Homo sapiens: one gene and its partners. The protein of the gene in region 1 interacts with the protein of each later gene in a pairwise test. Each region holds a gene or a part of one and is shown in the gene's direction. Other genes may lie near its edges.

Region 1 (4,944 bases):
TAGATGCAAAAGAATCAGACATTCCACTTTTGAAAGATTGCCAGTATTAATAAATGTGATTCCCACCTTAAAGTATTTTACTGTCTTATGAAGATCTAAACAGACGTATTAAATAAATTAACGAAAGCAGGTAAATTCCTATAGTCCTATGATTTTATAATTATAAATTACCATAGTGACAAGAAGATTTTACAGTTACTTTAGATTCTTTATTGGAAAGGGCAAGGATAAAGTAAATGAGTGCATAAACAGTACTGATTGAGGAGTTAGAATGGGTGAAATTATCCTTAAACAAGATACTTATTTCTGTTATAAAAAAAGGAAGCCTCATATGGTGGGCTGATAAAGAAGGTGCATGGCATAGAACATAGAGCAGAGATGGGTGGATGGGGACAAGACAGCAGCAGTGGGGTAAAGTAAGGATAGGCTCAGACACTTTCATTTATTCAGCAAATGCTCATCAAGGGCTTACTGCTTGCCAAGCAGTGTGCTGGCTTGCTAGCTGCTGGAGATATGATGATAAGCAGAACTAAACCAAACCAAACAAAACAAAAAAACAGTTTTTAAAAAGAACTGAGAGATTGAGAGATACGGATGGTCAGGCAAGATATCGTTGTACATGGGATGGAAGAGCTTCATTCAGTGGGCTTTGTGTGTTTCTCAGCAAGATAATTACCATTGTATAAAGAGAAGACACAGAAAATACAGAATTAGGTTAAAAATACAATGGTGGCCTATATGAAAATTAAAGGATTTTTGTTGAATTACTGTGAATAGTGTTTTAAAATTGAAATCCTTTTCTTTTCAAGTCACTGATTGGCTGGAGGAATGTTACACGGCTGCTGGTGTTTTCCACAGATGCCGGGTTTCACTTTGCTGGAGATGGGAAACTTGGTGGCATTGTTTTACCAAATGATGGACAATGTCACCTGGAAAATAATATGTACACAATGAGCCATTATTATGTAAGTGCCTGGTTCCTTACATAGTGAATGTGTTTATGTTGGATTTTAATGTTTAATACTAAGAGCTTGTGGGTGACTGGCTTGGGGTTTCTCAGGGTTTGAGGTTTTGCTGTTTTGGTAAGTAGGGGTCCTGATTGAAAGTGCAGGAAAGCTAGTGTTGCTGTTTGTGAAGATGCAGCTTTGTATTTGCTTCCTTCTGCTCAGACAAGGGCCTCACTGGGGTGGGAAAGGGATGCCCAGATGCCACTTTCACTCTTTGCCTCAACTCCCCGCCCACAGCATTTGGTAGCACAGTCAGTACTCTTTCTAAATAAATAATTTATCTAGTCTCATACTCTTTGTTTTATACGATTTTTAAAAGCAGTCACTCTGCCTTTATTGAAAATAAATATTGGCAAAGCATTCAAGTTCTAGAAGAAATCCAAATGGTAAATCTTGGTCTTTTTCTTAAGTTGTAGATAATAGAATATTTAATTACTGACTATTCTTTAATTTCATTGTCCTTATATTTAATATACATAGATAAACTTACTATTTAAAACCTTTTGAATATGGAATTTTTTATTCATACATGAAAGTAAAGAGAAGAGGATTAGCAATTCATGTATACACACGACTCACTTCAGCAGTTTATATTTGATACTGTTATTTGAAAGCAGTCTTGTAATCTAGTTATATGTATGCAACTAGATGTAATCTAGCTATATATGGATTATATATGTAATCTAGTTATCTAAAGCAGTCTTGTAATCGAGTTATGTGTAATCTTGCATGTATAACTAGATTGAAAAATTAGAAGAGATTATAAGGGTGTATTTAAATACTAAATTATATTACTTGATTTCTTAGGATTATCCTTCTATTGCTCACCTTGTCCAGAAACTGAGTGAAAATAATATTCAGACAATTTTTGCAGTTACTGAAGAATTTCAGCCTGTTTACAAGGTAAATGTGTGAGATAAAAAGAACAAGATTCTAAACATTTTTGATTGTTAGAGGCAAATCATGTCTGAATTGAAATGTGGGAAAATGCCACCAGATAGGCAAACCGAATTTTACAAAAGTGGTTTATATTAATTTTTAATCACATATTATAAAACTGGTTTCTAGGTTTGACTCCTAAAGTTAGTTAGGAGGAAACATGGGAACTGGCATTTAAAGATAAAAGTTGCTCAGTGGATCCTAATTGGTTGAATGAATAGCAGTTGTATTTTACGTGTTTTATCTTTTAATTGCAGGAGCTGAAAAACTTGATCCCTAAGTCAGCAGTAGGAACATTATCTGCAAATTCTAGCAATGTAATTCAGTTGATCATTGATGCATACAATGTGAGTACATCTTAAATAAGATCAGTTTTGGACAATACCCTGTTGAGAATACTTTGTACAAAGAAAGTAAAACTTCCTTCATACACACTTTAGCGAGCCCAAAGTACTACAGAAAAACTTAAATTCTGTATGTATCTAGAGGAAAAACTTTATACATATTGTCTTACAAAAGCAAGATTCATGGCCTAAACAAAGTGAAAATGTGATAAAGGCATGTGGGGAGTATTTCCAAATAACTGTTTGTTTATCATTAAGGAATAGATCTCCTTGTTAGAAAGCAATTGTAAAACATAACTTACATTTAAACTTACAGGATTTCTCCAATCTTTTTCCTCCCCAAAATATCCTTTATAGAGTCATCTATTCTGATGAATTGTGCTAGAAAAGTTTTTTTTTTTGCCAATTCTTCTCTTCCCATATATTCAGAGGATATGGGTTTCTATTTCAGGAGGTACACACTCATATATACGTATACCATAAAATATATAAAAATGTAAATATACATGTGATTTGCCTATTTCAAAAAGATTTATAGTGTTGTTTTCCCCTCACAGATGGGAGGAAGTTGAATTGAAATTAAAGAGGAATTGGCTTATCCTTTTTGAGCATAATTCAGTGTACTTTAATCACACCGAGTTAGCCTTCATTAATAATCATTTAAATAATCTGAAGGCGGTTGTAATTTGGTAGGTAACCCTTGTGTGTCTCGTGCACCACTTTCAGCCCCCATCCCCCTAACCCTTTGGCAGCTTGAATTTTAGACATTTTTACTTCATGTCATGGGGGTACCATAACGCTTTGGAAAGGCCAGCCTACCATATGAGGCTTCCCTTTTTTATGGGGTACCATAATGGTTTGGAAAGGCCTGACTTGGAGGGGTTTTTATAAAGGTTTTTAATATTTTACTTGTTCCACAGCTTTTCCCATTCTCCCCTGTCTTAGATAATTTTCCTAACTCTTGTTCTTTCAGGGGTGTGAACAAGAGATAGCTTGCCATTGTACCCTTCTCCATTTGTCCTGAATAGTCTCATATGTTAAACAAGCCCTGGCTTGAATCCTTCCTTCTTGGGGGATTTTGTTTTTTTTTTTTTTTGGCTGGGCTACAATGGTTCCTTAAGCAAATTTGTTCCTAGACTGCATAGTTGATTGTTTACCCTAGTCCATAGTTAGCTGGAGAGGTAGGACTACAGAAATGCCATTTTGCCGATGGGGAAGACAGCATTTATTTCGTTTTTTTTTGGGGGGTTTCTGTTTTTGTTTTTGTTTTTGTTTTTTAGATGGAGTCGCACTCTGTTGCTCAGGCTGGAGTGCAGTGGTGTGATCTTGGCTCACTGCAACCCCTGCCTCCCGGGTTCAGGCGATTCTTCTGTCTCAGCCTCCCGAGTAGCTGGGATTACAGGTGCACACTGCCATGCTTGGATAAATTTTTTTTTTTTTTTGTATTTTAGCGGAGATGGGGTTTCACTGTGTTGGCCAGGCTGGTCTCCAACTCCTGAGCTCAGGCAGTCCACCTACCTTGGCCTCCCAAAGTGCTGGGATTACAGGTGTGAGCTACCACACCCGGCCTATTCCACATTTTTAAGACTCCTCCTAATTAGTAACAGCCCTCTGCACTGTGTGATCCTGAGTATTTTAACTCAGTGATTAAAACAGGAATACTCTTTTCAATTGTGTATTTTATTTTAAAGATTTGATCCTTATTAATTAAAACCTGTTTCTCTGGCCTCTGTGTTTTCTAGTTACTCAATTGGATTTGGCTTGTAGATACTTTATTGAAATATATTTTTTTCTGAGCAGTTTATCCATTGGTTTTATGCATTCAAGTAGCATTTTGTTTGACTTTTCCTGTGTATAATTAGGCATTCTTTTAGTCCCTTTCCTCAGAAGTCATTTTGGAAAACGGCAAATTGTCAGAAGGCGTAACAATAAGTTACAAATCTTACTGCAAGAACGGGGTGAATGGAACAGGGGAAAATGGAAGAAAATGTTCCAATATTTCCATTGGAGATGAGGTATGTTGTATAAAGCATTTTCTGTAGAAAACATTGGTTATTTATAAGCAAATTTAGTTTATAGTTTGAGAAACATTAAAATAAGTGAGCAACTTTTTGAAATATTTTTTAGTAGATTTAAATTGTTTAGTTGGTTGTTAATCTTTTTTTTCCCTTCAAGGTTCAATTTGAAATTAGCATAACTTCAAATAAGTGTCCAAAAAAGGATTCTGACAGCTTTAAAATTAGGCCTCTGGGCTTTACGGAGGAAGTAGAGGTTATTCTTCAGTACATCTGTGAATGTGAATGCCAAAGCGAAGGCATCCCTGAAAGTCCCAAGTGTCATGAAGGAAATGGGACATTTGAGTGTGGCGCGTGCAGGTAAGCTGGGTGTTGTCAGACAGTGACAGAGCTACATTGGTTTAGAGAGTATAGGCAGGTCATATTTTGGGACATCCAGAGAATATCTCTCTATTTGGAGCAAATTATTTTTTCCAACCACGGTTGCTCACCACAAGATCAGTTTGATGATCTTGTGTGTGATATTTATAGAAAGTTCCTTCCTGCCTTTTTTTCTTAAAGTGATTACTCTTTAAAATAAAAGATTTTATAGCCATGAAAGAAGTATATTCAACAAATTGTTAAGGTAGCGTTTCTCTC
Region 2 (3,500 bases), on another chromosome or scaffold:
TACGCCTGCCTCAGCCTCCCAAAGTGCTGGGATTACAGGTGTGAGCCACCATGCCTGGCTGGGACTTTGACTTTCTCAGACACACTTTCCTGTCATGTTGGGTTTTTTTGTTTTCTTTTGTTTTAGGGACAAGCAGGCCGGGTGCAGTGGCTCACGCCTCTAATCCCAGCACTTTGGGAGGGAGGCTGAGGCGGGTGGATCACCTGAGGTCAGGAGTTCATGACCAGCCTGACCAACATGGCAAAACCTTGTCTCTACTAAAAATACAAAAATTAGCCAGGCGTAGTGGTGGGCGCCTGTAATCCCAGCTACTTGGGAGGCTGAGGCAGGAGAATCGCTTGACCCTGGGAGGTGGAGGTTGTGATGAGCCGAGATCAAGCCACCGCACTCCAGCCTAGGTGACAGAGCAACACTTTGTATCAAAAAAGAAAAAAAAAGAACAAGCATGTAGAGATTTTTTTAAAGCAATTAAAATTAACCATATAGCTGCCTCAGCTTGCCCCTCAAAAAAAATAGAGAAAAGGGAAAAAATCACCTCGGAACTCCTTTATTGATACAGGTACCGTTAGTATGGTGGTAGATGGCTTACTAGTTTTTTTTTCTAACTTTTTAAGCTACTTTTAATCCAGATGGGTCCACATTTTGGGAGTCTTTTGTCTATTTCTTTCGAACCAGGTCTCCATGTTGTCCTGTGGACTCCATGACCATCCTCTTGCACTTCTGGAATATTCTGTCCCATCAACTTGTCACCGTTTGCTTATTGTTAAATATTTAGGTGGTTTCCCCTTTGTTCTAGTTATAAATACTACCACAATGCACAGTTTTGGTACGTGCACCTTTTCCTGTATTTTGGATTATTTCATGTGGATTGCGTCCCGGCAGCAAGGCTGCAGCGGCTCGTGGCCTGTGCTGGGTGGCTGGGATTGAAGAGTGTTCCTGAGTGTGGAGGATCCTTTGCTGGAGGACTTAAAGTCCCCATGCTGCTGGCTGTCTGTGTTGGAGTCTGGGACTTGCTGGAGAAGGGTCAGTGGCGCAAGAGCGAGACCACAAACACCTGTCTCTTAGAGGCTGCGTTCCCATTTGCTAGGAGGAAAAAGAGCCTGGAGCAGGAGCCGTGTGAACCAGGAGAGGGTGGGCTCCCCGAGACACGGGGGACGTGACCATTAGCATTCTCCCTCACCCCAGCCAGACAGACGTGACCCAGAGGGACAGAGGGACTTGCTTGTGGTCACGGATGTGTTGGTGCTGGGCCCTCGGGCGACAGACCCATTCTTTTGCCCCAGGGCTGGAGGTGGATCTGGGCAAGAGTGAGGCGGCCACCTCTCCTCTGTCCCCAGCATGTCAGGCATAATGCCAGCTCCTCCTTGCCTCTATCCCCAGTTTATAGATGAGAAAATTGAGGCTTGGGACAAATGACAGGTCCAGATTTCAACTCCAGGCCGTCTGCTTCCAAATTCAGCTTCTTTTCCCCACAACTTTTGTGACCTGAATGCTGGAGACCTAAAGAACTGTTTACCCTTGGCTCTGGGACCCTGCTTCCTAGTTCCAGCCCAGGCTTTGGGGCACCAGCCTTGGAGGCTGAAGGGACCCTCAGCCAGGGTTCAGCTGGCTTCAACCCCTGTGGCAGGAGTGGGGGTGGGATAAAGAGATAATATAACAACTGACATTTATTCAGCACTTACAGTATGCTAGACGCTGCTCTAAGCGTGGTATGTGTACTGTCAGACTTAACGCTTGCAAAAGCCCTACAAAGGAGATACTCTTTCTGCCCCCATTTGACAGATGGGGAGACTGAGGTACTCGTATAACTCAGTCAGGTGAAGAAATTTACCCAAGTAACACTGCCCTGAAATGAGCCACTGGGGCTCAAGCCCTGGGCCTAAGCACTGCAGTGTGCTGCCACAGTGGAGAGGATGGGGATCTTCCTCTTGCCTGATCTTCTCCCCGCAGGCACTCAGCCTTTTCTCTGGTCCCCATAACGGCCCTCCCATCCGGGGTACAACCCCTGGGACCCTGCCTTTACCTTCAGCAGCCCCATCTATGCCCTGCTCTGTCTTCCTCCTGCCTTCATCCTTAGGTGAAATCTCAGACTGTCAGACCCCTAGTAGAACTTAGAATATGTCCTATCCACCCCCGCTCTTCCCCACCCACTAGCCATAGGGAAACAGAGTCCCAGAATGGTGGGGGGACTTGATGTGGGTCACCCAGCAGGTCAGAGGCAGCCCTGACCAGCCAGTTCCACAAATGGATGTTTGTGGTGTTAGAAACAAAATGCTTGTTCCTCAGTGCCGCAAAGAAATAGCACTTGAACATAAATTTAATCTTCTCAGCAAGGCAATTTTTACTTCTACAGAAGGGTGCGATTCAAGAATGGAGTAATGGCGAGAGCACATCTGAACAAGGGAGGGGAAGGGGTTCTTACTCCTGACGCAGGTAGCCCCTACTGCTACGTCGTTCCCCTACGGGCTAGTGTTGGACCGCACAGTCTAAGCTAATTCCAGTTAGCTATTTTAGAGAGAGCAGGGGTATGAGCCAGAGTGGCGGGGTGAGTAGTTTGGCGGGAAGGATGGTTAGGAACAGGTAACTAAAGGTGACTTAGGTCAAAGCAGGTGACCAGGGGTTTGTGAGGTCAAAGCACATGACCAGGATGAGTCAGGATGGAGCAGGTGACCAGGGGAACAGATGTGAACTACTGATTAAAACTGGTGGAAAAGGTTGTTTACTGAAACCATGAGGAAGTTAAACTTTAAAATGGAGGACAAAGAACTGAACATACTGACATACTGATTCTTTGAAGAGAAATCTAGAACTCACTGTATCCAGTGGAAGTGGATGTTTGCTCTGAGCCCTGGACTAACTGATTGGGACATGGAATGCTGTGGACTCTCCTTGTCCTGGAAAAACTCACTGTCTGCTGGGAGTGCAGACACACTGACAAATCAAAACAGCACACCTGGGCATGTATGGTCTGGTTCTCCAAGGACACCCAAGGACGGATGCACCTAAGAAAGGAGGGACTGGCTTCAGTGAGATTTTCAGGACAGGGTTTTGAAGGATGAATAGAAGTTTGCTAGGGGCTGGGCATGGTGGCTCATGCCTGTAATCCCAACGTTTTGGGAGGCTAAGGTGGGAGGATCACTTGCGGCCAGGCATTCAAGACCAGCCTGGGCAACATAGCAAGACTCTTTCTCCACAAATATTTTTAAAATTTAGTTGGGCATAATGACTCATACCTGTAGCTGCTCGGGAGGCTGAGGCAGAGGATTGCTTGAGGCCAGGAGGTGGAGGTTGCAGTGAGCTATGATTGCACCACTGCACTCCAGCCTGGGAAACAGAGCAAGACCCCGACTCTCCAAAATTAAAAAAAAAAGGCCAGGTGGTCAAACAAAGGATGAGTGTTGGTCTGGGAAAGGGCATGGCAGAGGCAGGAGCGAGGTGTGTTTAGGGGAAGAGCCCACATATCCCCACTGACTGGGCATAAATAATTGTGATAGTAGTCA
Region 3 (4,362 bases), on another chromosome or scaffold:
TCTTTTCTAAATTGTGTAGCATGTGTATGAGACTATTTATACCCAAGGATATGAAGGAACATAAGTGACTACAAGGCTCTAATAAGCCACGGTGGCAGGAGGTTCAAGCGGTTCTGTTCACTAAATTTTTCTCCTGTAAGCTTTGAATGGAAACTTCTGTATCACATGATGTGTTTCACTTATGCTGTTGTGTATATACCTAATATTTCTATTTTTGATTTTATTTTAATACACCTCGTCCAATAACATCTCAAGCTTTTTATTTGCATTTACATTTTCAGCTGTGGTCAGTGTAAAAATTGGTCATCAGCTGGGGGCGGGGTGGTTAGAAGTGATTCAACAGAGCTACATGCTTTAAACTTGCCCAAGTTCTACCTCCTTCCTTTGAACATTTCAGATTGGAGAACCAAGGAGTTGATTGCCTGAACACCTGAACATCCGTTTATGGGGGCCAGATAGAATTTGTTTTCAAATAGGCTTAACAGGCATCATTAAAATTTCATTCTGTGTGTTTTGTTTAGGCTTGAGGTGCTTAGAAGATGGGATAAAATATTCTACTTTTTTCTAAATTTTAACTTTGTTTCCTATGTGATTTTTTTAAATGTCCTTTCTAAAATATTCTAAAATTATTGATTCACAAGTGCCATGTTCAGAACTATAGAATATTACTGTTACATAATGTCTGCACAGCTGGTCCCTTGATTCAGTGGTAAGGTTTTTGTGTACACCCCCCTGCTTGCATTTTATTTCAGAACCACAAGTATTACCCAATATGTTACATGGAGAGGAACTATAAAGAATCCCTAAGGCAAAAAGAAGTCTCTAGAAAATGACTAGAGGTTTTTTTTTTAGCATAACAAATTTATTTAAAGAAAATTATTAAATTTATCTTCGCCTTGTTTTGCTTCTCCCAGTTCCTCCTCTTCTTGCCATTTTCCACTTGTCTTTCCCTCCCAATCAAGCCTGTGATCCTTACCTCCATGTGGGCCCTTCACCAGCTTGGGCCTCATCTCTGGTGTCCAGCATGTGTGGAAGTCACACGTTCCCTTGATGAACAGCACACACAGTCTCCTTACTTAGCTATAGGTTTCCAGCCTCCCTGTGACAGACAGGCATAATGAGGGGCTGAATAGGTGTTTGTAGCATTTTCGGGTATCCAGTGGTGTGCAAAATGGCTCATGTCATCACACCTCAGGTTATTGTAGAGAACTGGAAAGACAGAATCCATACTCCCTACCGCCAAGATTCTGACTTAGCTGTTGTGCAGCGGGAGATGTATGTCAGTCTATTTTAAAAGCTTCTCCAGTCAGCTAGACACAGTGGCTCATGCCTGTAATCTCAGCACTTTGGGAGGCTAAGGCAGGAGGATCGCTTGAGCTCAGGAGTTAGACACCAGCCTGAGCAATATAGCAAGTCTCTACAAAAAATTTTAAAAATTAGCTAAGTGTGGTGGCACATACCTATGGTCCCAGCTACTCAGGAGGCTGAGGTGGGAGGATTGCTTGAGCCCAGGAAGTCAAGGCTGCAGTGAGCTATGATCGTGCCACTGCACTCCAGCCTGGGCAAGAGTGAGACCCTGTCTCAAAAAAAAAAACCAAAAAAACAAAAAAACCCTTCCCTGGTGAATATAATGTATGCTCAGTCTTGAGAGTCACCATTTGGTTTGACCCATATTACAAAGCCCAGCCTTCTTTTTCCTCAGATGGTTTCATTTCTCAAAGGGGAGTGGAAGAGAAGGAAGGAGGAAAAAAACGTGCCTTCCTTCCTGGTGAACATGAAGCTCACTGAACCTAAAGGAGACTCACAGGCTAGAAACCAGTGTCCTTAGTAGTAGGGGCCACCTGGGGCTTCCGTGGCTTCTCCAGGCATACCTCCTGAGGTTCCACAGAATCCCCTTGCAGAAAGTACTTCTGATGAGCCACTGGGAACGTGTACTGTCCAAGCCCCCTTCTAGGGGAAATTCACTGCCACAGAAGCCAGCAGCCCTGGCTGTCCCAAGGGTGCATAAAAGGATAATAACTAAAAGGAGGGAATTAATTTTGTTGCCTACACCAGGGATAGATCGAGGGCACTGAAAGCATCATAAGTATAAACTCATCTCCACGTCAGCTTGTGGAGTCTGCTTTCTCGCTCTCTCTTTTTTTTTTTTTTTTGACAGAGTCTCACTCTGTCACGCAGGCTAGAGTTGCAGTGGTGCGATCTCAGCTCATTGCAACCTCCCCCTCTCTGGTTGGAGCGATTCTTCTCCTGCCTCAGCCTCCCTAGTAGCTGGAACTACAGGCACACACCATCTCGCCTGGCTAATTTTTGTATTTTTAGTAGAGATGGGGTTTCACCATGTTAGCCAGGCTGGTCTCGAACTCCTGACCTCAGGCGATCCGCCTGCCTCGGCTTCCCAAAGTGCTGGGATTACAAGTGTGAGCCACTGTGCCCGGTCGGGGTCTGCTTTCTCTTTATTCCCCGTCCTCTCACAAACTACATCCAGGGGCGGTAGCTGCTAAAAGGACTCAATTCTGCAACCTCAGCTTCTGACACCTTCAAATAAATTAAATGCTGGTCCTAGGGCTCGCTCCCCAGCTCTTCTGATGTCACTGCCAGGTTCCACAGCCAGTTGTCGGACATCTCCTGCTTCCTCAGCCAAGAACACCTCTCAGATGAGATCAAACCGCCCAGCTTTCCTCTTAGCATCTTCCTTTATTTTCCACTTCTGGCTGGTGGAAGAGAGATCGTAGTTCTCTATTCCCTACATTTTAACTCCACGAATATTTTAGATTAAGTGAAGTCTTGCTGTTCTTCCTGATGGAAATGGTAATTATAAACATACAAAGATACCCATACACACATTCTTTACTCAGGGCCCTCTTGTGCTTTGGCAAATGATAAAAATTATCTCTAACTCACACAACGACCCTGGAAGATCTGGACAATGCTATCACTATTTCACAGCTGAGAGATCGGGAGCATTTAAAGCCACAGAAGGAATAGATTGGCTTCGCTTCATATTGTTTCCTTGTGAAATAAAACCAGTGAAACACCTTTGTGTAGAATCTCCCTGACTCAGCTGAGTGTTCTGAGTAAGCAAGGGTATTACTTACAAGATGCACCATTTGAGCCCACACAGATGGGAGGGGAAATTTTTCCTTAAGTAATTTTATTTGGGTAGAAAAGTAATGCAAGAATTTAACTTACCATTCACACTTTTAAAGACAATTTGTAGAGACTACACTTCAGAATAAAATGTTTTGGCCAGCTACAGTGGCTCACACCTGTAATCACAATACTTTGGAGGGGCTGAATCAGGACGATCACTTGAGGCCAGGAGTTTGAGACCAGCCAGGACAACATTATGAGACCCTGTCTCTACAAAAAAAAAAATTAAGTTTCAGTAGCATTTATGTTCCATTTCATAACATGAATGTTACTAAAACTGATAAAAATTTTATCCTGAAAAGTTTTAACTTGATAGACGTGTAAGAGGAAAGCCTTCCAATTTAATTTCCTGTGTGCTGATAAATCTATTAAATACTTCAAGTCAGAGTGCCAAAAAGTGTCACAGAATTCCCGAGATGGCCACAGATATTCACAGATCTTGAATATTTCTCTTTAAGGGGGAAATGACAGGGAATCTTGGCGGCCTCTATCTCTAGGTCTTTGGAAGGACTTTAGAAATAATCTAGATTGGCCAATGTTCAATGTTAACGCAGAACTTTTAGAAATAAAAGAGGCCTTAATCTACAGCCCCAAAAGTAGATACCATGTCACACAGCAAGAAAATTATCTGTGATTTTTTTATTATTATTATTATTGTTAGACTTACGCTGGGCTTTGACGATAGGTCCTTTATCCCTTATCTACCACCCTTAGGGTCAGGTATGTTTTTGATTTCAGGTTTTTTAAAAAAAGATTAGGGCCAAGCACGGTGGCTCATGCCTGTAATCCCAGCACTTCAGGAGGCCGAGGCGAGTGTATCACCTAAGGTCAGGAGTTGGAGATCAGCTTGGACAACATGATGAAACCCCGTCTCTATTAAAAATACAAAAAAAATTAGCTGGGTATGGTGGCACATGCCTGTAATCCCAGCTACTCAGGAGGCTGAGGCAGGAGGATTGCTTGAACCCGGGAGGCGGAGGTTGCTGTGAGCTGAGATCATGCCATGGCACTCCAGCCTGAGCAACAGAGCGAGGCTTCATCTCAAAATAAATAAATAAATAAAAATAAAAACAAATAAGAAAAGATTAATACAGTGAGTATATTGAATATTTGGTGGTAAAGCCTCAGTGAACACTGATGAAGAAATCTTTTTTGTTGTTTTGTTTTGTTTTGAGATGGAGTCTCGCTCTGTCGCCCAAGCTTGAGTGCAGT
Region 4 (4,759 bases), about 21 Mb from region 1:
CATCTCTACTAAAAATACAAAATTAGCCGGGCATGGTGGCACATGCCTGTAATCCCAGCTACTCGGGAGGCTGAGGCAGGAGAATGACTTGAACCCGGGTGGCAGAGGTTGTGGTGAGCCGAGATCGTGCCACTGCACTCCAGCCTGGCGACAGAGTGAGACTCCATCTCAAAAAAAAAAAAAAAAAGAGAGAGAGAGAGACATAATTGTAAGTTCTGATGCCATTCTTTGTAGTGTCCTGTGGTCCTGAAATGTTACTTGTTGATGCGTCACATCAGAAAATGTGAAATCTATATAAACTTTTTTCACTTAATGATTAATATCCTTCAATAAGATCATGTTATTACCTTAGATATTAAATTGTCCCCATATGTTTCAGCCAGAGTCTGCTAAAAGTTAAAAACATTACATGAGAACTCCTTAACCATTATGAAGGATTCTTTCTACTCTTGAGATTCATAATTCTGTGGGTTGCTATAGTCAGTATTTACCAGCATGTCTCCCATCTCACAATTTGGTACTCTTAGGATTCTTTGGTTCAGAGAATGGGTTCAGATTCCCATTCTGTCACCAGCTGTGCAGGCCTTGGTCAAGTTACTTGGTCAAGTCTCAGTTTACTCATTTATAAAATAGGGAAAATAATACCCACCTCATAAAGATTTTAGTATTAAATGAGATAATATACGTAAAATGTTTAGTATGGTACCATGAGTAGTGTATTAGTATTATAGTCTTTTTGAAAGTTTGCTTGCTTTAAGGGCGTGATGTTTTCACATTAAAGTTGGATATTTAATTGAAAATGTATAAGAATCAATAACTACACTTCTAGATAATAGAAATGCTGCCCGGGTATAGTGGCTTATACCTGTAATCCTAGCACTTTGGAAGGCCGAGGCGGGAGGATGGATCCCTTGAGCCCGGGAGTGTGAGACCAGCCAGGGCAACGTACTGAGACCTTGTCTCTATTTTATTAAAACAGTTTTTTTTTAAATTAAAAAAATAGATAATATAAATGCTAATGTTGTCTTGGCATAGAAATGCTTTTTCTTTTGTTGTTGTTGTTGTTTTTTTTTGTATTTTTGAGACGGAGTCTCCGTCTTTTGCCCAGACTGGAGTGCAGTGGCGCTATCTCGGCTTACTGCAGCCTCCGCCTCCCGGGTTCAAGCGATTCTCTTGCTTCAGCCTCCCGAGTAGCTGGGATTACAGGCACCCTCCACCATGCCTGTTTAATTTTTGTATATTTAGTAGAGACGGGGCTTCCACATGTTGGCCAGGCTGGTCTTGAACTCATGACCTCAAGTGATCTGCCTGCCTTGGCTTCCCAAAGTGCTGGGATTACAGGAGTGAGCCATGGTGCCCAGCCTGCTTTTTCATATATTAAAGGTAATTTGTGTGTGTGTGTGTGTGTGTGTGTGTGTGTGTGTGTGTGTGAGATGGAGTCTCACTCTGTCGCCCATGCTGGAGTGCAGTGGCATGATCTTGGCTCACTGCAACCTCTGCTTTCTGGGTTCAAGCAGTTCTGCCTCAGCCTCCCCAGTAGCTGGGATTACAGGCGCCTGCTACCACGCCCAGCTAATTTTTGTATTTTCAGTAGAGATGGGGTTTCACCATGTTGGCCAGGCTGGACTCAAACTCCTGACTTCAGGTGATCCGCCCACCTTGGCCTCCCAAATTGCTGGGATTACAGGCATGAGCCACCGCACCCAGCCCCTAATGACGATTTTAAAAATAGGCCCAATAGCTTTTTTGTTGTTGTTGTGAGTTTTACCAGTGGGGTTAACTACAGCTATTAGGTGTCACTGTCAAAATAAATGCATAGAACAAGGGAGTGGAGAGCAATGAGGGAGTAAAAGAAAAAGGAGAAGGAAAAAGGTAGTTATGAGAAGGTACAGGCTGTGGCATGTACCTGCAAAAATTAAAGTGTTTCTGTTGGTCTAGGTTGCTTTCTGTGAAATTAACATTTTAATAGAGTACTGAAGTAAAGTATTTTTGTATTTAAAAAATATCAATATTACAAATGCTTTTTTTGGTAACCTAGTTTTAAGTGCTGTAATTTAAAACCTATATTTGAAAATATTTAAGGATACTATTGCTTTTAATAAAAAAAAACGAAGGGCTGGCCGGGCACTGTGGCTCATGCTTGTAATCCTGCACTTTGGGAGGCCAAGTCAGATGGATCACTTGAGGTCAAGAATTCAAGCAGCCTGGCCAATATGGTGAAACCCATCTTTACTAAAAATACAAAAATTAGCTGAGTGTGATGGCACACACTTATAATCTCAGGTACTTGGGAGGCTGAGGTGGGAGGTTCACTTAAACCCGGAAGGTGGAGGTTGCAGTGAGCCGAGATCACACCACTGCACTCCAGCCTAGGCAACAGAGCGAGACTCAAAAAAAAAAAAAAAAAGAAAAACAAAAACACTAAAGCTCAAAAACACAGTGGCTCATACCTGTAATCCCAGCACTTTGGGAGGCCCAGGTGGATGGATCACTTAAACTCAGGATTTCGAGACCAGCCTAGTCAACATGGGGAAATCCCATCTCTACTAAAAATACAATTACCTGGATGTGGTGTTGAGCACCTACTGTTCCAGCTACTTGGGGGGCTGAGGCAGGTGGGTCACTTGAGCCTGCGAGGTCGAGACTTCAGTGAGCTGTGATTGTGCCACTGCACTCCAGCCTGGGCGACAAAGTGAGACCCTGTTTCAAAAAGAAAACATAAAACTAAGAAATTTAGGTAATTTTCTACCTCTAAAATAGAATTTTGATTTTCTTTTTTTTCTTGAGGCGGAGTTTTGTCCTTGTTGCCCAGGCTGGAGTCCAATGGCGTGATCTTGGCTCATTACAACCTCCGCTTCCCGGGTTCAAGCCATTCTCCTGCCTCAGCCTCCCGAGTAGCTGGGATTACAGGCATGCGCCACCATACCCGTCTAATTTTATATTTTTAGTAGAGACGAGATTTCTCCATGTTAGTCAGGTTGGTCTCGAACTCTCGACTTCAGGTAATCTGCCTGCCTTGGCCTTCCAAAGTGCTGAGATTATAGGCATGAGCCACTGTGCTTGGCCGAATTTTGATTTTCTTATATACAACTCTTAGATAATTTAGGAGTTAAAACGTGAAACACCATGCCTAAAAGAAATTAGACAACTAGTTCTGAGTAGAGAAATATATTTTTAGAAAAGAAAAATTCAGAATTTTCCTGCAAAGTATAGTTTTTTGTTCCACAGTTACTTTCAGTTAACTATAAGCCTGTACTATAGGCCAATGCTATCCAATAGAACTTTCTGTGGAAATGTTCTGTATCTGCCCTGCTGTGTATGGAAGCCATTAGTCACATGTGGAATTGAGCACTTGAAATACAGATACTGACTGAAGAACTGAATTTCAAATTTTATTTAATTTTAATTAATTTACATTTAAGTAACCACATATGACTAGTGCAGCAGTTTTTGGGTGATAATTTTTTCTCCGACGGATATTTAGCAATGTCTGGAGTTATATTTGGTTGTCAAAATGAGGGAGGAGCTACTTGTATGCACTGCATAGCAGGCAGGGACACTGCTAAACCTCCTACAGAGCACATGGTGACCCCTTTCCTCTAAAACCAAAGGAGTATTTTGCCCAAACTGTCAATGGTGCTGAACTTTAGAAACCCTGGGCTAATAGCTACTCTGTATTGACAGATATAGCACAGAACATACGGATTTTAGGTTCATGTTTATTTATAAATTAACTTTAACTAATACAGATGAAGAAGTTAAAAGTCTAGTTTAATTTGAGATAGTTAACAGTTTTTGTATCTGAAAGTTTGATGATAAGGTTAGAGCAATGAAGTGAGATTCGTGAGTCCGCTGTTCTGTTTTGTCCGTTGACATATAGGAGGCAAGGGCTTGTTTTTGTTTCCTTTCTCAGCTGAAATACTGACATTGAATATTATATGAAATAGTGAACTGCCATCTTTCATGGTTGTCAAATGCTAGGGTTAAAGCTGACTCAAAATGTTCACAGATATATTCTGAAGTATTTACAATTAAATGACATATTGTTTTGGAGTTGATAGTGGCTGAATCTGAGTGATGGGTACGTGGAGGTTCCTTATATTATGCTCTCTACTTTTGTCTGGGCTTGGATTTTTCCTTATAAAAAGTAAAAAACAAGTACTTAGACATAGGCCTAACTAATAATGATAGGATGTGGAATGTGATGAATAACTTATTTTGTAACAGAAATAGTATTCATTTTACCTGCCTTTATTTACTCTTTTACAATTGCCAAGTTGCATTAATATGTTCTGTTTAAAAAAATAGTGTGATATCATTTTAAAAAGTCACTGCATCTATGGTACTGACATTCTTTCCCTCTTACAGATTGTCCTGGGTCACATAATGCCAGCTGAGCGTAAAAAGCCAGCAAGTATGGAAGAAAAAGACTCTTTACCAAACAACAAGGAAAAAGACTGCAGTGAAAGGCGGACAGTGAGCAGCAAGGAGAGGCCAAAAGACGATATCAAGCTCACTGCCAAGAAGGAGGTCAGCAAGGCCCCTGAAGACAAGAAGAAGAGACTGGAAGATGATAAGAGAAAAAAGGAAGACAAGGAACGCAAGAAAAAAGACGAAGAAAAGGTGAAGGCAGAGGAAGAATCAAAGAAAAAAGAAGAGGAAGAAAAAAAGAAACATCAAGAGGAAGAGAGAAAGAAGCAAGAAGAGCAGGCCAAACGTCAGCAAGAAGAAGAAGCAGCTGCTCAGATGAAGTAAGGCA
Region 5 (2,464 bases), on another chromosome or scaffold:
TTTCCTTCTAGCAGGTGGTAGATATCAGGTCATCAGTCTGCACACCTCCCTTCAGAGCCTCAGGGATTCCCAGAGGTGCATCAGAGGACGTGGGCAGCCAAGGGGGTCAGAGGCACCTTACAAAATAAGCCACGGGTGGTAACATTCTTATATCATCACCTTTACAGCTCGGCTTCTTCAAAAGAAAATATGAAAAGATGACCAAAAATCCAGATGAGATTGATGAGACCACAGAGCTCAGTAGCTGAACCAGCAGACCTACCTGCAGTGGGAACCGGCAGCATCCCAGCCAGGGTTTGCTGTTTGCGTGAATGGATTTCTTTTTAAATCCCATATTTTTTTTATCATGTCGTAGGTAAACTAACCTGGTATTTTAAGAGAAAACTGCAGGTCAGTTTGGAATGAAGAAATTGTGGGGGGTGGGGGAGGTGCGGGGGGCAGGTAGGGAAATAATAGGGAAAATACCTATTTTATATGATGGGGGAAAAAAAGTAATCTTTAAACTGGCTGGCCCAGAGTTTACATTCTAATTTGCATTGTGTCAGAAACATGAAATGCTTCCAAGCATGACAACTTTTAAAGAAAAATATGATACTCTCAGATTTTAAGGGGGAAAACTGTTCTCTTTAAAATATTTGTCTTTAAACAGCAACTACAGAAGTGGAAGTGCTTGATATGTAAGTACTTCCACTTGTGTATATTTTAATGAATATTGATGTTAACAAGAGGGGAAAACAAAACACAGGTTTTTTCAATTTATGCTGCTCATCCAAAGTTGCCACAGATGATACTTCCAAGTGATAATTTTATTTATAAACTAGGTAAAATTTGTTGTTGGTTCCTTTTAGACCACGGCTGCCCCTTCCACACCCCATCTTGCTCTAATGATCAAAACATGCTTGAATAACTGAGCTTAGAGTATACCTCCTATATGTCCATTTAAGTTAGGAGAGGGGGCGATATAGAGAATAAGGCACAAAATTTTGTTTAAAACTCAGAATATAACATGTAAAATCCCATCTGCTAGAAGCCCATCCTGTGCCAGAGGAAGGAAAAGGAGGAAATTTCCTTTCTCTTTTAGGAGGCACAACAGTTCTCTTCTAGGATTTGTTTGGCTGACTGGCAGTAACCTAGTGAATTTCTGAAAGATGAGTAATTTCTTTGGCAACCTTCCTCCTCCCTTACTGAACCACTCTCCCACCTCCTGGTGGTACCATTATTATAGAAGCCCTCTACAGCCTGACTTTCTCTCCAGCGGTCCAAAGTTATCCCCTCCTTTACCCCTCATCCAAAGTTCCCACTCCTTCAGGACAGCTGCTGTGCATTAGATATTAGGGGGGAAAGTCATCTGTTTAATTTACACACTTGCATGAATTACTGTATATAAACTCCTTAACTTCAGGGAGCTATTTTCATTTAGTGCTAAACAAGTAAGAAAAATAAGCTCGAGTGAATTTCTAAATGTTGGAATGTTATGGGATGTAAACAATGTAAAGTAAGACATCTCAGGATTTCACCAGAAGTTACAGATGAGGCACTGGAAGCCACCAAATTAGCAGGTGCACCTTCTGTGGCTGTCTTGTTTCTGAAGTACTTAAACTTCCACAAGAGTGAATTTGACCTAGGCAAGTTTGTTCAAAAGGTAGATCCTGAGATGATTTGGTCAGATTGGGATAAGGCCCAGCAATCTGCATTTTAACAAGCACCCCAGTCACTAGGATGCAGATGGACCACACTTTGAGAAACACCACCCATTTCTACTTTTTGCACCTTATTTTCTCTGTTCCTGAGCCCCCACATTCTCTAGGAGAAACTTAGAGGAAAAGGGCACAGACACTACATATCTAAAGCTTTGGACAAGTCCTTGACCTCTATAAACTTCAGAGTCCTCATTATAAAATGGGAAGACTGAGCTGGAGTTCAGCAGTGATGCTTTTAGTTTTAAAAGTCTATGATCTGGACTTCCTATAATACAAATACACAATCCTCCAAGAATTTGACTTGGAAAAAAATGTCAAAGGAAAACAGGTTATCTGCCCATGTGCATATGGACAACCTTGACTACCCTGGCCTGGCCCGTGGTGGCAGTCCAGGGCTATCTGTACTGTTTACAGAATTACTTTGTAGTTGACAACACAAAACAAACAAAAAAGGCATAAAATGCCAGCGGTTTATAGAAAAAACAGCATGGTATTCTCCAGTTAGGTATGCCAGAGTCCAATTCTTTTAACAGCTGTGAGAATTTGCTGCTTCATTCCAACAAAATTTTATTTAAAAAAAAAAAAAAAAGACTGGAGAAACTAGTCATTAGCTTGATAAAGAATATTTAACAGCTAGTGGTGCTGGTGTGTACCTGAAGCTCCAGCTACTTGAGAGACTGAGACAGGAAGATCGCTTGAGCCCAGGAGTTCAAGTCCAGCCTAAGCAACATAGCAAGACCCTGTCTCAAAAAAATGACTATTTA
Region 6 (4,944 bases), on another chromosome or scaffold:
CATGAACCCTGAACCTGAAAGTTTTTTTTTAAATGCCTTTGGGAAAATTGGCTATCTGCGTGCAAAAGAATGAAATTGAACGCTTATCTTAGCAAATATACCAAAGTCAACTAAAATGGATTAAAGACTTAAACACGATACCTGAAACCATAAAATTTCTAGTGGAAAACATAAGAGAAAAGCTACTTGACATTAGTCTAGGCAATGAGTTTTTGGAAATTACACCAAAAGCTCAAACAACAAAAGCAAAAATAAACAAATGAGACTATATTAGAAAGCTCCTGCATAGCAAGGGAGATAATCAACAGAGTGAAGAGACAGTCTGCAGAATGGGAAATAATATTCGCATAAGTCCTATATATTTAAAATGTATAAGGATCTCACCAACTCGATAGCAAAAAACCAAATAACTGATTAAAAATTAGTCAAGAGACCAAATGGCTTTCTTTCCAAAGAAGGCATCAAAATGGCCAATAAGTAGATGAAAAGGTGCTTAACATCACCAATCATCAAGGAAATGCAAATTACAAACCACTATGAAATATCACTTCACACCTATTAGAATTGTCATTATCAAAAAGGCAAGAGATAACAAGTGTTGGCGAAGGTGTGAAGAAAAGGGAACCCTTGCACACTGTTGGCTGGAATGTAAATTGGTACAGCCATTATAGAAAACAGTAGAGAAGTTACTCAAATTAAAAATAAAACTACCATATGGTCCAGCAATCCCTCTTCTGGGTATATATCCAAAGGAAATGAAATCAGTACCACATAAAGAGATCTGCGTTTTTATGTTCATTGCAGCAGCATTCACAATAGCCAAGTTACAGAAACAAGCTTAGTGTCCATTGACAGATGAATGAATGGATAAGGAATTGTGTGAGGTGTATATATACACACATATATACATAAACATATACAATGGAGTATTATTCAGCCTTTAAAAAAGGAAATTCTGACTTTTGTGACAACATGGATGACCCCGAAGGACATTATTTTAAGTGAAATAAGCTAGGCCCAGAAAGACAAATACTGTATGATCTCACCTATCTGTGGAATCTAAAAAAGTCAAATACATAGAGAAGAAGGTGAGCAGAGAGAGGGTTAGGAATAGGAAGATGTTGGTGAAAGATGTTGGCATTTGTGTAGGATGAATAAGTCTAGAGATCTAATGTACAGCATGAGGACTGGAGTTAATAATTGTGCACTGGAAATTTGCCAAGAGAGTAGATTTCACTCTAAATGCACAAAAAAGATGACCGTGAGGAGGTATGTAAAGTGTAGTAACTGTTTCACTATGTATACGCATATCAAACCTGATGTTGTACACCTTAGATATACACAGTAAAAAGAAAGCATGGGCTCAAAATCACAAATCCTACCTCTGTCTTACTCATTTGACAAAAATTTTTTGAGTATATGCTGTGTGTGCTTCCTATGAAGAAGCAGAGGGAGATATTTTTATTGCCATTTCATAGGGATATTTTGAATACTAATATGGAAGGGATTTGTTATATCAAGGTTACTGGTTTTTATTTTTAAAAAATACAAACTATAGACCTTAAAGGACATTTTTGTAAGGATTTAAGAAACAAATTATGGAGATTTTATCTTTAAGATAAAATTCTGAGTTGTTTTAATATTTCATTTTAGATTATGTGAAAAAATTTGGAGAAAATTTTGCATCATGTCAAGCTGGAATATCCAGTTTTTACACAAAGGTAATTGTTCAAAAAATAGCTGCTATAAATGTTTACATATAGAATCTTAATTCTTCTCATGGTTTGGAAGACTGATATGTTTTAAAGTAAAAATTGTGTAACATCTTCATCATGTCTCTTAAACTTGAGTATTACAACTTAATTTTTGCCACTCAAAATTCCACATATATTTCAATAAAATATCAATATTTAGGTGGCTATACTGCATAAGATGAATGAAAATCTATACTAAAGAACATTTCTTTCATCAACAATTTAATGAAAATCAAAAGTAGCTATGGTTAATTGTCTTGTTAACTTAGGTATTGAAAATATCAACCCAAGTATGTTATTTTAAATTTCTAGTTGAGGGGCAAAGGAAGAATATCAGTCTATATTTTTCATTAAATTATGATAATTGGGAAATTTAAGAATTTAATATCCCCTTAAATCAGATAGACAATATTCCCAAGATTTCTTACTCTCTTTCTAACATTCTAGGATATGTATGAAAGGGCACAGTTGTACTCAACCCCAAATCTCTCAGTTTTCTTAAAAACACACTGTGAATTCAGGAATGTTTTTTGACTCCATGAAGATCAGGCACTATATCAAGTTTGGGGTTGACAGTGTCTGCACATATTAACAGTTATATTAAAATGCTTACAAAGAAAATGCTTTCTTCAGTTTAAGTTGACTTTTTTTAAGTTTAGGATTGTTTAGGAGTATAGAAATATGCTAAAGATATTTAATTGCTGAAAGTGTTCATACTATACCAGGCAAGGGCATGCTCATTCCAATCTTCTCCTAAATTTTCCTCTGTATAACAAAATATGCCCCACATTCCATTGGACTTTTTTCCCTAAGCTAACATTATTAGAAATGTTTTCCCTAAGCTAACATTATTAGTCAGGGGTTCTTTGCAAATAGAAGTAAATTAAGTCTACTTTTTATTCTTTGGCAACACATGATTATCTCCATAATTAGCACTAATGAATTACCCACATACGATTTTCTTTAATAGGAACCACATTGCCTTTCTCCCAAAAGCTTACTCTAGCGTTCAGTACTTGTCCCTTCAACTTTTGAAATCCACTGATAAATGCATTGAATGAGAGTTTCAGAGTTTCTTCTCTGAGATTTCGCTTTTAGAAATCCATTAGCCAACTTCTCTGGCTTTTTTTTTTTCCTAGTATGTTTTAACTTCACAGAATATTCCTACTTCAGGAATTGATTATTATAAAAATATGTTCTCTTCACTATCGTGTATCTGGAGGAGGTTTGGGGTGGTGAGATTAAAGTTTAAATAATAATAGTTTTTTTTTTCTTACAGGATTTAATTGTGATGGGGGCCCCAGGATCATCTTACTGGACTGGCTCTCTTTTTGTCTACAATATAACTACAAATAAATACAAGGCTTTTTTAGACAAACAAAATCAAGTAAAATTTGGAAGTTATTTAGGTACTATAAAAATTGACAAACTTAAATGATCTGTGCCTTACAAATACTAGTACTGTAATTATAAATAAGGAAAATGTATTTTCCAAAGATCTAAATGGCCAGTATAATTACAGTAATAATTAGGCAGTTCAGAAACTGTCTCTTAAGGATAGGATTTATGAAACTTCAGTGAACTCAGTATTTTACATTTACACATGTGACTAAAATCATCAATATATAATTCTTAATAGAACTCCTAGTTTAGTTTACTCTTTGTAGTTCACTTTAGGAAACACTAGTAAGTTTCTATCTCTATGTAGTCAACTGATTATACAGGTTGTTTCTGTTGAGTGCCTCCCATATCTCAGGAACTTTTTGTGAGAACTTTACATGAATTAACTCATTTAAACATCTGCATAAGTAAGTATAGTTTCCTTAAGCACCAACTGAAAGCCAGTGGTACTGTCCACCACATTCTGGATGAGGGGCTCCATGAAGCACATGGGTCTAAAAACAGCTCATTGACCTTCACCTCATAAGTTCTTAGAATATTTCCCAGAGCTTAACTATTTTTATCATCTTCCTCCTCCTCACTGTCATCTCATAAGTCAATAGTAGGATACTTTATCATCTGTATTTCAACAGAAATGCAAACTTTTCTGGCATTAATGTCCATTACAAGAAAATAAATGCTTTTCCTATAGATTTTCAGAAAATCCAGCTTTGTTTAAACTGTATGTGTGTCAAATGTGAGCATCTTACACTCAGAAATAATTATAAAATAAGCACTCTTTCTTTCTATTCAAACAGAAGAAATTTCAAGTAGAAGAATTTGTTACAATTCAATGTTTTCTTGTTTATGATGAAAGGATACTTTGAAATCGTTCAAGAAATATAACTTGTTACGCCTTTTATCACATAAAATACGAACAATTTTTTGTCATCGAAAAGTCATCACAAAGATTTGGTGGCAAAAAAAGTTGAACTTCAGCAAGATGTTTATTTAAAGTTTAAAGTTTTCATTTCCCAATTGAGATTTTATATTTAATATACTCTAAAATATGTCTGTTGTAATCCTAGAAACTGATTATACTGCACCAGATGTAAAGATGCTATTTTCAATTTCTAGGACTCGGAAATACATACCATATGACTGCAGTTTTGTAAAACATATCAAAATTGCATAAAACATAATGAATGACCAATTTTGAGTATCTCTATGCTAAATATTCTTAACTGCTTAATGTAGTGATTTTGAATTCGGTATCATTTAATTTTATGATCTATTTTACCCATATTACCATATGATGTACTTTACCCAGGACTCTCATACTTTCTCCCTTTTCTTAAAGGATATTCAGTCGGAGCTGGTCATTTTCGGAGCCAGCATACTACCGAAGTAGTCGGAGGAGCTCCTCAACATGAGCAGATTGGTAAGGTAAGAATTACATTTTTATATTTATTTCTTCACAAAGGTTCAAATATATTGCATGAATAAGATATTAAAGGAGAAACTGTGAATGTTGTAAGGAAAGAAAGATTAGAAATGATGAACAGATTATTACATTTAGTGGAATTGGTGAAAGATGTTATGGTTTTAGAAGAAATTTAGCAAAAAACTTTCTGAAAAATTACAAAAGTCAAACGAGACATTGTTTTAAGAAAATTATAAGATAGAACTATCTAAAAATGTCCAGGGAGTATATGGTGAACAGTTTCACAGCTGAAAAGAAGTTGAGGTAGCTACATATTTTGTAGTAAGACTAGAAAGAAGGAAATATTATTCCTGGTTTTAGTTTTTG
Region 7 (4,944 bases), on another chromosome or scaffold:
TGGTGTGTGGTTACAGGAATAAGCAGTTCGGTTTCAGTATAAATAGCTATCCCCAGAGCCTTGCAAAGATGGAACTGGCTGCCTTGTTCAGTAGTGAGCTCCCCACCACTGGAGCTGTGAAGGCAGAAGCCGGGGTGGGGAGGGCGACTATAAAGAGGATTCCTGTGTTGGTTAGCAGACTAGACCAGGGTCAGTGAGCTTTTTCTATAAAGGGCCAGATAGTAAATACTTGTGGCTTCGTGAACCAGATGGTCTCTGCTGCAACTACCCAGTTCTGCCATTATAGCACAAAAGCAGCTACATAGGCCATAGGTAAATGAATGAGAATGACTGTGCATAAATAAAAATATTTATGGGCAATGAAATTTGAATTTCACGTAATTTTCACATATCATGAAATATTATTCTTCTTCAGCTTTTTTTTTTCCCAACTATTTAAAAATATAAAGACCATCTGTAGCTCGAGTACCATACAAAACAGACTGAATTTGGCATATGGGTTCATAGTTTGCTGACTTCTGAATCGGAGCAGCTGGCCAGAGGCAGAATGATGGAGCACACTGTTCCTCAAAGTGGGGTACCAGAGCACCCACACTGGGGATGCTTGAGGGTGCTTATCCCCACAGTGTGCCCATGTGAGCCCTAATATCTTGAAGCTTCTGTTTCCTGATCCGTAAGTACAGGACCCACATTAGATCCCCAAGTTTCTGTCTTGAGGATGACAGAGCTTTGTCTAGAAAGGGCTTTGTATCAGCTGTACACATATTAGTAGAGCCCAGGGTGAGCTTGAGTCAGACTGAATGGTCTGAGTCCTGGTTCAGTCCTCAACAGCTTTGTTACCAGGAGCAAGTTACTTAACCTCTCTGTTCTTCAATGTCCTCGTCTGTACAATGAGGATAATAATAGCACCTATCAGATAGGGCTGTCGTGTTGTTGTGCTATAAAGCACTTCCTGCCAGACAGGAAGTCTCTGTAATTATTAGCTGTTGTGATTTTTCACTGGTGTTATCATTCCTGGGACCCAGTCTAAGTTAGTAGCCAAGCTAAGTGCCAGCCCAAGATTCTGACTCCAGTGCAGCCTTTGTGATGGTCTTTGTGTCCCTGGCAAATGAGCGGTCACTGGCTGGGTGGCCACCACATTCACAGACAGGTCAGGTTTCAGGCTGTGGGGAGGAGCAGATTCTTACTTGGAAATTAAGGCCTTTGCCTTCCCCTATGGATAGAACTGGTGAATAGGTTTTATTCCCTTAGTGAGCTCAAAGAAATAAGAGTATAGTCCCAGACTTCCACTCTTCTGGTTTTAGAAAAAAAAAAACCCAAACCCTCAGTGTCTCCTAATTAGCTTGAGGCCATCACCCCATGAGAAGCAGGGGGATTCAGGACAGTTTAACTCTTTACTGCCTTACTAAGGAGATCTTGATCTAGGCCAGTGCCCTCCAAACTTCTGTCTTTCATGTAGCTCATTTGTGATTTGTGTCTACCCCCATGCCACCTTCATTATTATTTTCGTAGGGTTTTCTTTTCATTAGCTTATCTGTTAAAATTTGACCTCATCCTATATAATTATATCCATGAAATCATGGCTTTGATGTTCGTGTTTTTTTCCTATCCTGCATTAAAGTAAATAATGCAGGAGAGGAAAAATTTAATGTCCCTCTAAAAATGTCTTTAAGTTTGCCCATGAGCCCACCTGGCATGATCCCAGGTAGCTCATTTTGATCACTGGGACGTAAGCAGCCTGAAATGGGGTCACAGCTTAGTCTCCGCATCAGAAGAGCTGGGTTCAGGTGCCAGCTCCGCCCCTTCCCGGCTGTGTCCCCCAGGTCTCCTCCTCAAGGGACACGGGAAACTTAGAAGTTGATAGAGCACTGCAAAGTGCGGTGGAGAACCACTGTGCAAGCCCTGAGGAGGGGAACTGGGCCTCGCTCCTGCTGGGGAAGGTAGAGAAGGGAAGGACGGAGCCTGGAGTCTTCCCAGAAGGGAAGGACGGAGCCAGGGGAGAAGGGAGGGGGAGAGAAGAACCAGCCAGACCACAGGGGCTGAGACAGACAGAGAATTTAGGGACAGACAGAGGGGTCTACTGTTTGAACTTGTTTGTGTTGGTGCAGTATAAACCCTGTAGTGGTTAACTTTATGTGTCAACTTGGCTAGGCCAGGGGAGAAAGATAGTTGGTCAAACATTATTTTAGATGTTTCTGTGAACGTATGCCTTAGATGAGATTAACATTTAAATCACCAGACCCGCGTAAAGCGTATTGCCCTCAATAACATGGGTGGGCCTCGTCCAATCAGTTGAAGGCCTGAATAGGAAAAAGACTGACCTCCCCAGAACAAGAGGGAACTTGGCCAGCAGGCTCCCCTTGTCCTTGCACTTGGACAGCATCTGTTTCCTGGATCTCCAGCCTGCCAGCTCACCCTACAGATTTTCAACTTGCTAAGCCTTCACACCTGCATAAGCCAATTCCTTAAGCGCTCGCTCTTTCTCCTGTGTGTGTGTGTGTGTCTGTCTCTCTCTCTCTCTCTTTCTTTCTGCTAGTTCCTTTTCTCTTTTTTTTTTTTTTTCTTTTTTTTTTGAGACGGAGTCTCACTCTGTTTCCCAGGCTGGAGTGCAGTGGGGCAGTCTTGGCTCACTGTAACCTCCACCTCCCAGGTTTAAGCAATTCTCCTGCCTCAGCCTCCTGAGTAGCTGGGACTACAGGCGCGTGCCACCACACCTGGCTAATTTTTATATTTTTTGTAGAGGCAGAGTTTCACCATGTTGGCCAGGCTGGTCTTGAACTCCTGACCTCGTGATCCTCCCGCCTTGGCCTCTCAAAGTGCTAGGATTACGGGCATGAGCTACCACAGCCAGCCTAGTTCCTTTTCTCTAGAGATCCCTGACTAATACAAAGCCCACTCCACCCCTGACCATCCAGATTGTCAGCAATACCTTTTACACTCCCAAGTGGGGAGTGAAAACAAATGCCATCTGTACCTCAGCCAGCCACTTCAAGCCTCTGCCTTCACAGCCTCACTTCTTACCTGGGGAGTTTTAGAAAACCTTTCTTTATCTCACTGACATTTCCTTTTGTTAGGTACTATAGTTAGTTACATCGACTTTAACATTGTGGGTTGCGGAAGCAATACCCTCTGTAAGGTATTTTAGGGTTTCTCTTGTGGTTTATGGTTAAAAAAAATACAGGGGAGAGGCAGCCAGGGTTTTGAGGAAGGGTGGCTCAGCAAATTAGGAGATGGATGGAACTTTCCACGCTGGGTCTGGAAAGAGTTATTCCTTTGGAAAATAGTTTTCAAGACAAGTTTCTGGCTGAAAAAAAAATAGCTTCTGCATATTTGTGATTTAAAAATCTCTTATGGGGTGCTTGAAATTCTCAATCATGTTGTGGTTGATATGTTTGTAGAGGATAGCATTTATTTTGGTGCTTGAAATGTATACACTCCTCCTCACACATCCCTGGAAGGTGAGTGCTTTGGTCATCTTTATTCTGTAGAGGAGGAACTGAGGCACAGAGAGGCCGAGGAGTTACCCAGGCTCACACAGCTGGTAGGTGCTGGAGTCTGGGCAGGATTTGTCTGTGTCTGCATCCCATCCTCCCAACTTTTCCATCTCACCGATTCCCCCTTAGAACTGAAAGAGGCCAGGCGCAGTGGCTCACACCTGTAATCCCAGCACTTTGGGAGGCCAAGACAGGCAGATCGCCTGAGGTCAGGAGTTCAAGACCAGCCTGGCCAACATGGTAAAACCCCATCTTTACTAAAAATACAAACATTAGCTGGATGTGGTGGTGGGCGCCTGTAATCCCAGCTACCCTGGAGGCTGAGACAGGAGAATCGCTTGAACCGGTGAGGCGGAAGTTGCAGTGAGCCAAGATCGTGCCACAGCACTCCAGCCTGGGCAACAGAGTGAGACTCCATCTCAAAAAAAAAAAAAAAAAGAGAGAGAACTGAGAGACCTGCTGGGTTTCCCTTTGAGTGACAACATCTGTGTCCATCTAGAATGAATTCGTTCAGTAGTGGCTTCTTCTGTATTTCTGCCTAACCTTCTTGACCACATTGGTTTCATCCTCGTGCTTGCATTCTCACGGTAGGAAGCACAGGTGAAAGTACCAACTGTCTGTGTCTCTGTTACCAAGAAAGCAAAACCTTCCCCAGGAGCCGCCCAAGAGACACCCGCTTCCATCTCTGTGGCCAGAAGTCCCAGGGCTACTTCTGGCTGCAAGGGGGTCTAGAAAAGCTAAATGCTGTGAGCCCAGGGGGAGCATCTTCCACAACTATTGGAGTCAGCTCCACATGGTAGGGTTAATAAAAATTTCACATAGTCACTGAGTACAGTAATAGAAATACAGTATCTAGCAAGGACAGGTAAATGTGGCGTGTGGGTTCCCACACTGCATTTCCAGATGGACAGCATGGCTGGCCTATATCCAGAGGGGTCGGTCAGAATAGGGTGAAGGCTCTGGAGATCATTATCAGAGTGGAGTGGTCACAGGTCCTGAGGATGTTGGAGGACAGATTAAGGAGGGACGTGGTACTTTTTAAAAGTATTCAAAGGGTCACGGTGGCTCACGCCTGTAATCCCAGCACTTTGGGAGGCCAAGACGGGTGGATCACGAGGTCAAGAGATCGAGACCATCCTGGCCAATGTGGTGAAACCCTGTCTCTACTAAAAATACAAAAATTAGCTGGGCATGGTGGCACACGCCTGTAGTCCCAGCTACTCGGGAGGCCGAGTGAGGCAGGTGAACTTCAACCCAGTAGTTGGAGGTTGCAGTGAGCCGAGATCGTGCCACTGCACTCCAGCCTGGGCAACAGTGAGACTCTGTCTCAAAAAAAAAATGTATTCAGAGGATTGCAAGTTGGAAGAAGGATTAGGATTTCCACACAATAGCTAGTAAGGGATCAATGAGTGCCCAAGTGTGGAGGTGTTTCATTTACACTGTTATAAAG

The links.
Region 2: the proteins of ITGB1 (region 1) and ENG interact in binary tests that used the Homo sapiens proteins (3 or more experiments, as listed by UniProt).
Region 3: the proteins of ITGB1 (region 1) and LYN interact in binary tests that used the Homo sapiens proteins (3 or more experiments, as listed by UniProt).
Region 4: the proteins of ITGB1 (region 1) and UPF2 interact in a two-hybrid assay, tested with the Homo sapiens proteins (one large-scale study listed by BioGRID).
Region 5: the proteins of ITGB1 (region 1) and ITGA2 interact in binary tests that used the Homo sapiens proteins (3 or more experiments, as listed by UniProt).
Region 6: the proteins of ITGB1 (region 1) and ITGA4 interact in binary tests that used the Homo sapiens proteins (3 or more experiments, as listed by UniProt).
Region 7: the proteins of ITGB1 (region 1) and TOM1 interact in a two-hybrid assay, tested with the Homo sapiens proteins (one large-scale study listed by IntAct).

The regions. Positions count from the first base shown.
Region 1 is NC_000010.11:32,919,606-32,924,549, reverse strand, and holds part of ITGB1 (integrin beta-1 isoform 1A precursor), read left to right. Parts: intron 1-809; coding exon 810-965; intron 966-1,814; coding exon 1,815-1,910; intron 1,911-2,203; coding exon 2,204-2,293; intron 2,294-4,164; coding exon 4,165-4,305; intron 4,306-4,465; coding exon 4,466-4,665; intron 4,666-4,944.
Region 2 is NC_000009.12:127,848,159-127,851,658, reverse strand, and holds part of ENG (endoglin isoform 1 precursor), read left to right. Parts: intron 1-3,500. UniProt on the Homo sapiens protein: Vascular endothelium glycoprotein that plays an important role in the regulation of angiogenesis. Required for normal structure and integrity of adult vasculature. Regulates the migration of vascular endothelial cells.
Region 3 is NC_000008.11:56,011,134-56,015,495, forward strand, and holds the end of LYN (tyrosine-protein kinase Lyn), read left to right. Parts: 3' UTR 1-3,036; downstream 3,037-4,362. UniProt on the Homo sapiens protein: Non-receptor tyrosine-protein kinase that transmits signals from cell surface receptors and plays an important role in the regulation of innate and adaptive immune responses, hematopoiesis, responses to growth factors and cytokines, integrin signaling, but also responses to DNA damage and genotoxic agents.
Region 4 is NC_000010.11:12,035,051-12,039,809, reverse strand, and holds part of UPF2 (regulator of nonsense transcripts 2), read left to right. Parts: intron 1-4,368; 5' UTR 4,369-4,386; coding exon 4,387-4,751; intron 4,752-4,759. UniProt on the Homo sapiens protein: Involved in nonsense-mediated decay (NMD) of mRNAs containing premature stop codons by associating with the nuclear exon junction complex (EJC).
Region 5 is NC_000005.10:53,090,352-53,092,815, forward strand, and holds part of ITGA2 (integrin alpha-2 precursor), read left to right. Parts: intron 1-167; coding exon 168-248; 3' UTR 249-2,464. UniProt on the Homo sapiens protein: Integrin alpha-2/beta-1 is a receptor for laminin, collagen, collagen C-propeptides, fibronectin and E-cadherin. It recognizes the proline-hydroxylated sequence G-F-P-G-E-R in collagen.
Region 6 is NC_000002.12:181,477,104-181,482,047, forward strand, and holds part of ITGA4 (integrin alpha-4 isoform 1 preproprotein), read left to right. Parts: intron 1-1,653; coding exon 1,654-1,721; intron 1,722-3,033; coding exon 3,034-3,163; intron 3,164-4,494; coding exon 4,495-4,580; intron 4,581-4,944. UniProt on the Homo sapiens protein: Integrins alpha-4/beta-1 (VLA-4) and alpha-4/beta-7 are receptors for fibronectin. They recognize one or more domains within the alternatively spliced CS-1 and CS-5 regions of fibronectin. They are also receptors for VCAM1.
Region 7 is NC_000022.11:35,305,729-35,310,672, forward strand, and holds part of TOM1 (target of Myb1 membrane trafficking protein), read left to right. Parts: intron 1-4,944.